Homo sapiens: one gene and its partners. The protein of the gene in region 2 purifies or fractionates together with the protein of the main gene of each other region. This does not show direct contact. Each region holds a gene or a part of one and is shown on either strand. Other genes may lie near its edges.

Region 1 (3,651 bases), on a different chromosome or scaffold from region 2:
TGCCAGATGACGCAGCAGCTGGTGCTTCTCTCCTGTGTGCTTCCACAGGACCGGCCTCTGTGGTTTGCTGTTTCCCACTGTCATTAGCTGAATGCATGTCTCCTTCACTACGTGGTGATACTGCAGGAACAGGCACCCTGTGTGAATTCATTTATGATCCCTTAGCATAGAGCTGTGTCACTATGGGTGGGATGAATACTGTGAGTGTTCAAATAACTGAGAATAAAACACTCTAACCTATGAAAGTCATGAAGTATCTGGTATGCACTGCTGCTGTCAAGGGTTAACCAAATTTTATATAGCCCTTAGTTACCACTTGTTAACCCATTTATGCCTAGTGTTCCATTACTGGAACGCTAAGCTTGTGGGATTTATATTCTACTGCTCAAGGTCATTGCCAAGGCCTGATTTTTCACACAAAAAATTCGCAACCTCTGGCACAAACGGGTTAAAAACTGGAGTATTTTGAAAAACAGTATTCTTCAGCACATATTTAAAACACTATAAAATTACTGCATATAGCATCCACTTTAGTAGTCAAAAAACAAAAACAAAATCAATCAAAATCTTCAATAACAGAAAAGGATAAGGCACAGCGCTACAAGCTTTGGATCTCTTGGTTGTAACATAGTCAAATGGTCGCATGTTAGGATTATATTAACAGGGCACTGCTGTTGCTTTATTACTTTTTAAAAATAGCTTTTTGGAACTGAAAAAATACAACTTAACCACTAAGGAAGTAAAAAAATCACTCATAGTATGGCTCTCTCTCTCTCTCTCTCTCTCTCTCCAGACATATGGATAATGAGGGCATGGGAACCTTCCTCCTCATTCCCTGCCACTTCCTCCTGTTTCCCTATCACAGGAGGAAACTCCTGTTAAGTTTGGTGGATGCACACAGACATCTCAAAACAGGATTTCCTATCTCATCAAGCTAAAGTAATTATAGCTCTAAATTACACTTCAAGAGGAGTTTATAAATTTGATAAATGCATAAACTGTTTTAGCAGTGTCAAGACAGGGCTTAGAAAGTGACCTCAATTCTTACAGTGACAAAGAAAGATGACTCTATCCACTTAAAATTCTATGCTCTGTGACCAGCCAGCAGAGCCTCTCACACAAATGACTTTGGGAGGACCATGATAGGACTGAAAAATGAAAATGGTCGGTGTTGAAGGAGTCAGGTCTCATCGTTTGCAATTCTGTCAAAATCAATGGAAGGCAGGAGATCATGGGCTAAACGCTTCTGCGTTCTTTGGTTGATTCTACCTCGAATTCTTCAACTCAAATTTGGCACAACAATAATATGAAAAATGCTGATACAATTTGTATTCTTTTCAGAAGGGGAGTGTAGAATAGCAGCTGGTTCTACCATCATATACATGACCTCATCTGTAAAACAAATTATAGTATCTTTCTCACAGAACTATTGTATTAAATGAATATATGCAAAACTCTTAGAATACTGCCTAAAACACAGTTAACTACAGAGGTGTAAGTTCATACAACTTCATAATAGAGATAGTATTTTCTTAAAAGAACAGCTAACAGCAGCTGATTACTCAAAAATTATGCAGTGATTTTTATTTTGGGGGCTCAGCTCAATAGCAGGTAGCATAAAATGGTTTGGGGGACAGGTGACCAAAGAACAGAAATCCTTTAAAAAAAAAAAGGTCTTTAAACAATTCTAAACTCAAAAGGTCTTACAACAACTTGATTTCAAACCTAAAACAATCACCACCACCAACAAAAAAAAGGTAAATTTTCACCCTCTTTTTTTTTGGAGAGAGAGTCACCCTACCGCCCAGGCTGGAGTGCAGTGGCGCTATCTCGGCTGACTGCAACCTCTGCCTCCCGGGTTCTAGCAATTCTCCTGCCCCAGCCTCCCTAGTAGCTGGGATTACAGGCGTACATCACGCCCAGCTAATTTTTTGTATCTTTAGTAGAGATGGGGTTTCACCATCTTGGCCAGGCTGGTCTCAAACTCCTGACCTCGTGATCCACCCGCCTTGGCCTCCCAAAGTGCTGGGATTATAGGCGTGAGCCACCACACCCGGCCTTGCCCTAACTCTTAAAACTTTCAATGATGAATAAAGTGGCAGGGAGTCATTTTGAGGCATAAAAAAATTCTGTACAAACTTTTCATTTAACGCTTAACCAAAACAAAATAAGGCCAGGGTGGAAAATATCTTATATGGCATTATTAAGTTCAGAGATTTCTACATACTAAAGATAAGCCTGTCATGGAAATTATGAAACTCTCAACAGATGCCATAAAACAGTGAAATTATCTGATATCATACACAACACCTGATATTGCACATCATGGAAAGCTTTATTAACAAAGACCCCAGGGTTTAATCAAATATTGAAAGGAAAACAAATATGCTACCGTTAACACCCACATCCAGGAAAAGCTTATGTAAGAATTATAAGTTTTAAATAGGTGAGACTGCTTATTTTTTAACATAGAAAAATTGCAAATTTGTCAATCTTTAAGAAAGGATATAGTAAAGGCTTACCATGTGACCGTCCCAGTTTACTTAGGAATACAGAAATAGGTAATTAAAATAAATTGTGCAAACATATATTACATCAATCTGCCCAAATTATAAATTCAACGATGCATTAGGACTGTATTCAGTGCAATCAAAACATTATCAGTTACGGCTGCTGCTGCTAATGCTCATGCTCCTAAGAGAAATGTGTTGTAAAACCAGGCAGAACGGGCTGGAGAGAGACTCTCGTGGACTTGGAGGATGAATAAGCATTCCTTAATTAGCCCATCAGGTTAAGTGCAAGCATTAATGGGCCCTTCCTAAAGTCTAGCTTGACATCTTTCTCCAAACATGGCCAAGAAGAAAGTTCCATTAGCAATATTAATACAAGCTTAGTTGATCATTTTCATTCAATTAACTTCTTTCAATTAAATAGATAGCTTGACAAAAGCAGTGATAAAAGACCCAAAGGGACAGCTGATGACTCGAACTGAACATTAGTGTGCGAGAGGTCGCTGGTATTAAACGGACTGTAAATCTAGCATTCAATTTGGAAAATGCATTTCTTCTGCTCTCACTCCTTTAATGAGCAATTTTAGCTGACTAGATGTGTTTGCTGCAGAAATTTCATGGGAAGTCAAGCACCCTTTTCCTTTTCTTTTTTTCCATCCCAACAGTTACATTCTCACTGGTGGTGGTTTCCTGCCAACATTCCAGCCACAGTAACTCAAAACTTCACTTTCTGGTTAAGAACGAAGATATGTTAAAATAATTTATATACAACTAGCATTAAAAATTAATGACCTACTTTACGTTGTTAATCAATTTTTGAAAGGTTTGAAAAAACAATAAAATCTAAGAAATATTTAGTGAAAAATAAAAACATTTTAAAAACTGTATTTATATTTCATCGTGTCACAGTTAAGTAGTTAGGGCCACATAGAAAAGATGCATGTAACAAGGTTTAAAAACATGGTTTTAAGTGAGGCAAATGTAAATTAAAATGAAAGTAATTTTAGTTAATTAAATTACCTTAATTAATCAAAAGTACTAAAATTACTTTTCTTAATTAAAAAGGTATATAGGCCAGCTGCAGTGGCTCACGCCTATAATCCCAGCACTATGGGAGGCAGAAGCAGGAGGAATCCATGAG
Region 2 (3,651 bases):
TTGTAGAAATGAGAGCCTCACTATGTTGCCCAGGCTCCTCTGTAACTCCTGGGTTCATGTGATCCTCCCACCTCTGCCTCCCGAAGTGCTAGAATGACAGGTGTGAACCACCGTGCCCAGCCTGAAGCAGACAGCTTTTTTTTTTTCTTTCTTTTTGTGTAGACCTCCTCTGCGGTCAAGATAAGTGTTTTAAGGCTAGGCACAGTAGCATACATTTGTAATCCCAGCAACTTCGGGAGGCTACAGCAGGAGGCAGGAAGATCACTCGAGCGCAGGAGTTCGAGACCAGCCTGGGCAACATGACAAAACCCTACCTCCACAAAAAAATACAAAAACTAGCCGGGTATGGTGGTATGTGCCTCTAGTCCCAGCTGTGCGAGAGACTGAGGTTCCCTTGAGCCTGGGAGGTGAGCGGAGATCACACCACTGCATTCCAGTCTAGGCAACAGGGCAAGACCCTGTCTCAAAAAAAAGAGAAGAAAACAGTGTTTTAAATGGATAAAATATTTAGTTAATATTTAGAGGAAAACTATGATTATAGATTAATGTTACTATCTAGTTTCACCAGTTAGAAACAGAAACTGAAAAGATTTTGTCAATGGATTAAAAATAATAAGCCCAGCTGGGTGTGGTAGCTCACAACTGTAATCTCAGCACTTTAGGAGGCCTAGGCGGCTGGATCACTTGAGGTCAGGAGTGCGAGACCAACCTGGCCAACATTGTGAAACCCCATCTCTACTAAAAGTACAAAAATTAGCCGGCGTGGTGGCACGCGCCTGTAGTCCCAGCTACTAGGGAGGCTGAGGCAGGAGTATCGCTTTAACCAAGGAGGCAGAGGTTGCAGTGAGCTGAGATCGCACCATTGTACTCCAGCCTTGGCAACAAGAGCAAGACTCTGTCTCAAAAAAAAAAAAAAAAATACACCCAGATGCAGCGGCTCAAGCCTTAAATAAGTTTGGGGTGACCCCCACTGACCCTGGTTAACCACACTCCACCCCAGAGAACTCAGTATTTTTCTTTCAAAGCACTCATCATACTTCTCTTACCTGGCAGAAAGAAAGCTATTTAAGGCCAGGAAGATGTCTGCTGTGTCCCCTGAGCCAAATGGATGAAAGAGAACTTAAAAGACAAGTAAGATAACTCACAATCAAGATCTGAATTTTCCGACAGACTTCATCATCCATAATCACTAACCAATCTTGTAGCGAGTGTGCCCAAATGCTTGTCCCCAAATCCAGCTGCTATACACACAAATGACTTAAGAAATGTATTTACACAATGTGGCTGTGTCACCACCAAGAACACGCTGGGCATTTGACAGCAATTCAACATGAGCTTCAGAGACACCCACAACAGCCAATGAGGCAGATGTTTCAGCTGAGCAAAGCAGATGTCAGACAAGGACAGCTACTGTGTCCAGTTGTTTACAGCAAGCAGCTATTTCTCTCTCCACCAAGAATAATCTCAAGACAAAGAACAGGCCCATAACCATTTTTCCAGAACCACTTTAAAGATCATGGTTCCATGACAAAGGCAAAAGTATCACAGCACATGCAGTCAGCACTCAAAAGCCCAAACACAAGTTCCTTTCCTTTGCAGAACTGAAAAACTTTTACAGTACTTGAGAAGGGCTCACAATGCCTCCTAAAAATAAGTTGAGGGCGAACAGCTGATAGGCAACTATTACACAGAATAAGTTTTGTAGTCTGTCCAGAAAATACCATGGAGTAAGCCTTTCTCCTGAATTCCAAGGCAGATTTCCTGCAACTCCCCCACAAATTAGTGTTAATTTTTTTTTTTTTTTTTTGAGACGGGGCCTAGCTGTGTCACCCAGGCTGGAGTGCAGTGGCGCAATCTCCACTCATTGCAAGCTCCGCCTCCTGGGTTCATGCCATTCTCCTGCCTCAGCCTCCCGAGTAGCTGGGACTACAGGTGCCCGCCACCACGTCCGACTAGTTTTTTTTGTATTTTTAGTAGAGACGGAGTTTCACCACGTTAGCCAGGATGGACTCGATCTCCTGACCTCGTGATCCACCCACCTCAGCCTCCCAAAGTGCTGGGATTACAGGCGTGAGCCACCGCATCCGGCACAATTTTTATTTATTTTTATTTTTATTTTCTTGAGTCAGAGTCTTGCTCTGTCGCCCAGGCTGGAATGTAGTGGTGCAATCTCAGCTCACTGCAACCTCTGCCTCCTGGGTTCAAGCGATTCTCCTGCCTCATCCTCCCGAGTAGCTGGGACTACAGGTGCCCGCCACTATGCCCGGCTAATTTTTTGTATTTTTTAGTAGAGACGGGGTTTCACTGTGTTAGCCAGGATGGTATTTTTTTTTTATTTTTGAGACGTAGGCTCGCTCTGTCGCCCAGGCTGGAGTGTAGCGGAGCGATCTCAGCTCACCGCAACCTCCGCCTCCTGGGTTCAAACAACTCTCCTGCCTCAGCCTCCTGAGTAGCTGGGACTACAGGCACGTGCCATGACACCCGGCTAATTTTTTTTTTTTTGTAGAGATGGGGTTTCACCATGTTAGCCAGGATAGTCTCGATCTCCTGACCTCGTGATCCACCCACCTCAGCCTCCCAAAGTGTTGGGATTACAGGCTTGAGCCACCACGCCCAGCCAGGGATTTTTTTTTTCTTTTTTTTTTTTTTTTTTTTTGAGACGGAGTCTCACTCTGTCGCCCAGGCTGGAGTGCAGTGGCACGATCTCTGCTCACTACAACCTCCGCCTCCCGGGTTCACGCCATTCTCCTGCCTCAGCCTCCGGAGTGGCTGGGACTACAGGCACCCGTCACCACGCCTGGCTAATTTTTTGTATTTTTAGTAGAGACGGGATTTCACTGTGTTAGCCAGGATGGTCTCGATCTCCTGACCTCATGATCTGCCCCCCTTGGCCTCCCAAAGGGCTGGGATTACAGGCGTGAGCCACCGTGCCTGGCCAGAACAGTAATTTATTAATGCATTCATTAATAAATTAGGCCTGGCCCTAGCTAACTAATCAGATTCCCAGAGATTACGGCCAGCACCCCAGCTGAAATCATAGGACCAGGCACTCTTGTCCCACAGGAGTGGTAAGCTGCATAGTGGTTTAAAAATGTTCGGACAGGGGCGGGGGCGGTGGTTCATGCTTCTAATTCCAGCACTTTGGGAAGCCAAGATGGGCAGATCACTTGACATCAGGAGTTCAAGACCAGCCTGGCCAACATGGCGAAACCTCGTCTCTACCAAAAACACAAAAATTAGCCCGGCATGGTGATGCACACCTGTAATCTCAGCTACTCAGGAGGCTGAGGCAGGAGAATCGCTTGAACCTGGGAGGCGGGGGTTGCAGTGGGCCAAGATGGAGCCACTGCACTCCAGCCTGGGCAACAGAGCGAGAATCCATCTCAAAATAAATAAATAAATAAAAATAAATAACATAGGCCAGGCACGGTGGCTCAAGTCTGTAACCCTAGCACTTTGGGAGGCCGAGGCGGGAGGATCACCTGAGGCCAGGAGTTTGAGACGAGCCCAGCCAACATGGTGAAACCCCGTCTTTACTAAAAATAAAAAAAATAGCTGGGCGTGGTAGTACGTGCTTGTAGTCCCAGCTCCTCCAGAGGCTGAGGCAAGAGAATAGCTGGACCAGGGAGGCGGAATGAGCCAAGATCACGT
Region 3 (3,651 bases), on a different chromosome or scaffold from region 2:
AAGACACCCCCTCTCACCTGATAATGCATCAGTGTGTTGAGCCGCTTCCAGTCACCCTCAATCTTGGTGGTGATGTCCTCATCTTGCAGCACGACCCGGGCGATCCGGCCTTGGCGCCACTCTGGGTGGAGGGGGTGGTGCAGGGAGCGGCGTGAGAGGGATGAGGGCTGTGAGCCAGTGTCTCCCGATTGCACCTTCTCTAGGGACCTGGCAACCCGGCCCCCTCAAGCTGGTACCAATAACAGAGGCTAGAGACATCTAGGGCTCCATGGGCCCAGGCAGCAGAGGAAACACGTAGACCTCCCCAGAGACAGCCACATCTGAACAGGCAGCGCTCAAAGCGGGAAGCATTTCACACGGGCCTCAGCTGGCCAGGACACAGTCATGCCCCTGCAAGGGTTGTGTGCATGGCAGCTTCCCTTCCTTCACCTCTCAACCCCTGCCCTCACACTCTGAGTCCAGGTTTCCTACCCAAGTCCATGTCCACTGCCCTCGGCCGCTGGGAATAGGGCACATTCTTATACACGGCATCAAGAATCTTCTCCTTGACCTGTGTGATGGTGTCACAGTTTAACACCTTCACTGGGATCTCTGGACTGTTCTCGTTGTCAGGGTTGACGCAGTTCAGGATCTACAAGTAGGGGACAGAGGGTGAGCAGGACAGGAGTTGAAGGAGTAGTTTGAGGGAGAGGGTCAGGACCTCAGAATCTTCTTTTTCCAAAGTTCACCCTCCTTATAGGGGAAATAAGGGTACTTTTCTGGTCTGTGACTCAGTTTCCCTCACCTTCATAACATCTGCCAAATGAGAGTCTGAGTCATTGTGTCCAATTCTTCTTTCTCAAAGCACCAGGACTCTACTTTCTAGCTCCTGGACAGCTTAGGGGAGACTATAGTCCTGGAATGAGGCACCCTCAGTGTTTAGAGATGGCTCTACATGTATCAGAGACTAGTCATGCACTTCCCCAAAGCCTCTATGTTAGGAACCAACATACATCTTTCTCATAATACCAATTACCCAATAACTAATGATGGGTGAACTTTTTTCTCCCCCAATATTATCTAGGATAAACCGAGGCATAGAGTGCTTGGGATGGGTGGGCGGGCCTGCCACCTTGCTCTTGGTACACTTAGTTGTCCTTTGGGCTCACCCCAGACCAGCCTCCCATCCTCTTTATTGACCCCCTAGACTGCTTTTATGGACAGAAGGCAGAGCAAGGGGCAGAAGTAGAAGATACACAGGCGGGCCCGGAGCTTCCGGCTTCCTCACCAGGGTCTTGTACTCGATCTGCTGCCGGATGAGCTTGTCCTCGCTCAGGGAGTAGCGGGCCTCGCCCGTGATGGCATCAATGGGGCCCTTCTCCATCTGCTGCTTGATGGCACAGTATAGCATGAAGAGTGGCTCCCCTGCGCACTCCTGTGGGCACAGACAGGGCAGGAGGTGTGGGCACGGCCTCCTCAGGTTTGTACGTTTTCCCTTTCCTCTCTCGGAGCGAGGCCAGTGGAAGGAAGGGCTTTAGCACAGCCAGTCCAGGTTCCTGCTCCCGAGGGAGGGGGTCCCCATGCAGCCCTGTGGCCAGGATCTAAGCAGCAGTGCCATCCTGCCCTGGACGCTAGGCCCCGTCTCACTCCCTTTCTCACCTTTAGGAACTTGTGCAGGAGGAAGGCGAACCAATTGGTCAGCATCTTTTCAGCCACAGACTCTGTCCTGGGGAAGGGACAAAGGGTAAGGGGCAGTCCTTCACAGAGGGGTCTCCGTGGTGGGGCCTGGGCTTGCCATGAGGTCTCCCAAGAGAACAATGGAGCATGGGAGAACGCAGGGCGGGAGTCAGGACACCTGGGTCCCAGCCCAGCTCACCCAGTAACTAGACTGTGACCTGGGGGTAGGGGTGGCTTCTTTCTGGGCCTCAATTTCCTATGAAAATGGAGAGGTTGGCCTTTTCAGCCCTGATGGTCCGTGGTGCTCTGAACTTTGGCTGCATCTGAGACAGGGTCTGTGGATAAAGGCACCTCACTATCCCACAGGGCTATAAAGAACCGGTTCTCCCAACTCACTTCTGGCCTCAGGGTGATAACTAGAGAGTTTCCCAGTCCCTCTGGGCTTTCTTGCATGTGTGAGTACCCTGTTTTGCCTATCTGGAAGGTGCCTGGTCCCTTCCCCTCCAAAAACACTCAAGGTTAGACTTCCTTGGGTTCAAATCCTGATTCTGCCATACGTTGGCTGTGTGACCTTGGGCAAGTCATTTAACCTCTCTGGTTTCAGTATTCCTATCACTAAATGGAGACAGTCATAATAACATCCAACCCCAGTGGTTGTTGTCAGGGTTGAATGAGTTAATATTTGTAAAGTGCTAAGAAAAGTGCCTGGCACCTGCTAAGCACTATCCATTAGCTGTCATTATTGCTGTCATGTGGGGTCTTGGATCCCAGCCCTCAGGTAGAGAGCAGTGCTTAAGTGTTTTGCCAACAGGGGATTTGCTCATGCAAGGGCTGGCCCCCCTCCCCTTCCCATCCCAGGGCTACAGATCTGGGGATTTGGGAAGGAACAAAGCGGCTGTGACAGACCCTCAGTGAAGGGGATGCCGGAGGGGTATTTTAACTCCCTGCACGTGGTGCAAATTATATCCTCTGGTTGCAGTAAATCCCAGGCATTTGCCAGGGCTGCTCAGCAATCTGGGCCTGGGAGAGAGTGACAATGGCAGAAAAAATTGTAGCTTTCTCCCGTGGCTCCTCCCAGCACCCTCTCCCTGCATTGTGCTTGAGATTAGCTCTAATTTAAATACAACAGTTCTTAATGAGAGTTTCTAATGCTCAGATTGGCAGGATGGGGGCTCAGTACTCATAAAGCAAAGCCATTCTTCCTCCCTCCTCACCCCACGTGGGGCCTGGAAGCCTGAGACCTTGCTAGAGGAAGGCTAAAGAGGAGGGGTGGTGAACGGAGGTGCAGCCCTCCAGCCCCTGCTGCCCAGAGGACTCCAAAGCTGTGCCCGGCTCCCCACGGCCTCTAGAGAGGGTGGGCTCAGGGGATACTGAGGTCTCCAACCCTCTCCCCTGCCAGGAAAAATGCAGTGGGCATGTGTAGTGGATGCTGTGATTCAGATCCAGGAAGCTGAGCTCAGAAGGCACGGCCTTCTAGGCTGTCCAAATCCCTAGCTCAGTGCTGCGCAATAGAACCTTCTGCGATAATGGGAATGTTCTCTATCTGTGCGGTCCCGTATGGTGGCCACTAGCTGCAATGTGGCAACCAAGCACTTAGAAAGCGGCTAGGTGCTAGGGCAATGGAGGAGCTGGATTTTACATTCTATTTCATTTTAATTTGTAGCAGCTACCTGTGGCTAGGGGCCGCTGTGCCGGACAGCACAGCTCTAGAGGCACCGGGAGGAAGAGACTGTGAGATAGGAATTATTTTTCTCATTTTGTCTAGGAGGAAACTAAACAACAGAGTGGTTACAACACTGGCCAGAAATCACAGAGCTAGCAGGAGGCAGAGCTGGGACTCCAGCTGAGATCCGAGCAAGGGTCTGAGCTCATCCATCACACCTGGGTGACTTCAGACTCTGTAGTCTCCCTGGGCTGAGGGAAAGTCAGATTCTGCCCTGCAGAGACGTGAGGACACAGGCTGCTCTGAATGGGTGCCCCTTCTGGGGAGTGGGC

Evidence for each region.
Region 1: the proteins of FAM234A (region 2) and UBE3C purify together in Homo sapiens (affinity purification with mass spectrometry; one large-scale study listed by BioGRID and IntAct). This does not show direct contact.
Region 3: the proteins of FAM234A (region 2) and PLXNA2 purify together in Homo sapiens (affinity purification with mass spectrometry; one large-scale study listed by BioGRID and IntAct). This does not show direct contact.

The regions. Positions count from the first base shown.
Region 1 is NC_000007.14:157,208,307-157,211,957, reverse strand, and holds part of UBE3C (ubiquitin-protein ligase E3C), read right to left. Parts: intron 1-3,651. UniProt on the Homo sapiens protein: E3 ubiquitin-protein ligase that specifically catalyzes 'Lys-29'- and 'Lys-48'-linked polyubiquitin chains.
Region 2 is NC_000016.10:237,771-241,421, reverse strand, and holds part of FAM234A (protein FAM234A), read right to left. Parts: intron 1,213-3,651; exon of another isoform or gene 1,146-1,212; intron 1-1,145.
Region 3 is NC_000001.11:208,038,354-208,042,004, forward strand, and holds part of PLXNA2 (plexin-A2 precursor), read right to left. Parts: intron 1,706-3,651; coding exon 1,639-1,705; intron 1,415-1,638; coding exon 1,268-1,414; intron 632-1,267; coding exon 472-631; intron 122-471; coding exon 18-121; intron 1-17. UniProt on the Homo sapiens protein: Coreceptor for SEMA3A and SEMA6A. Necessary for signaling by SEMA6A and class 3 semaphorins and subsequent remodeling of the cytoskeleton. Plays a role in axon guidance, invasive growth and cell migration.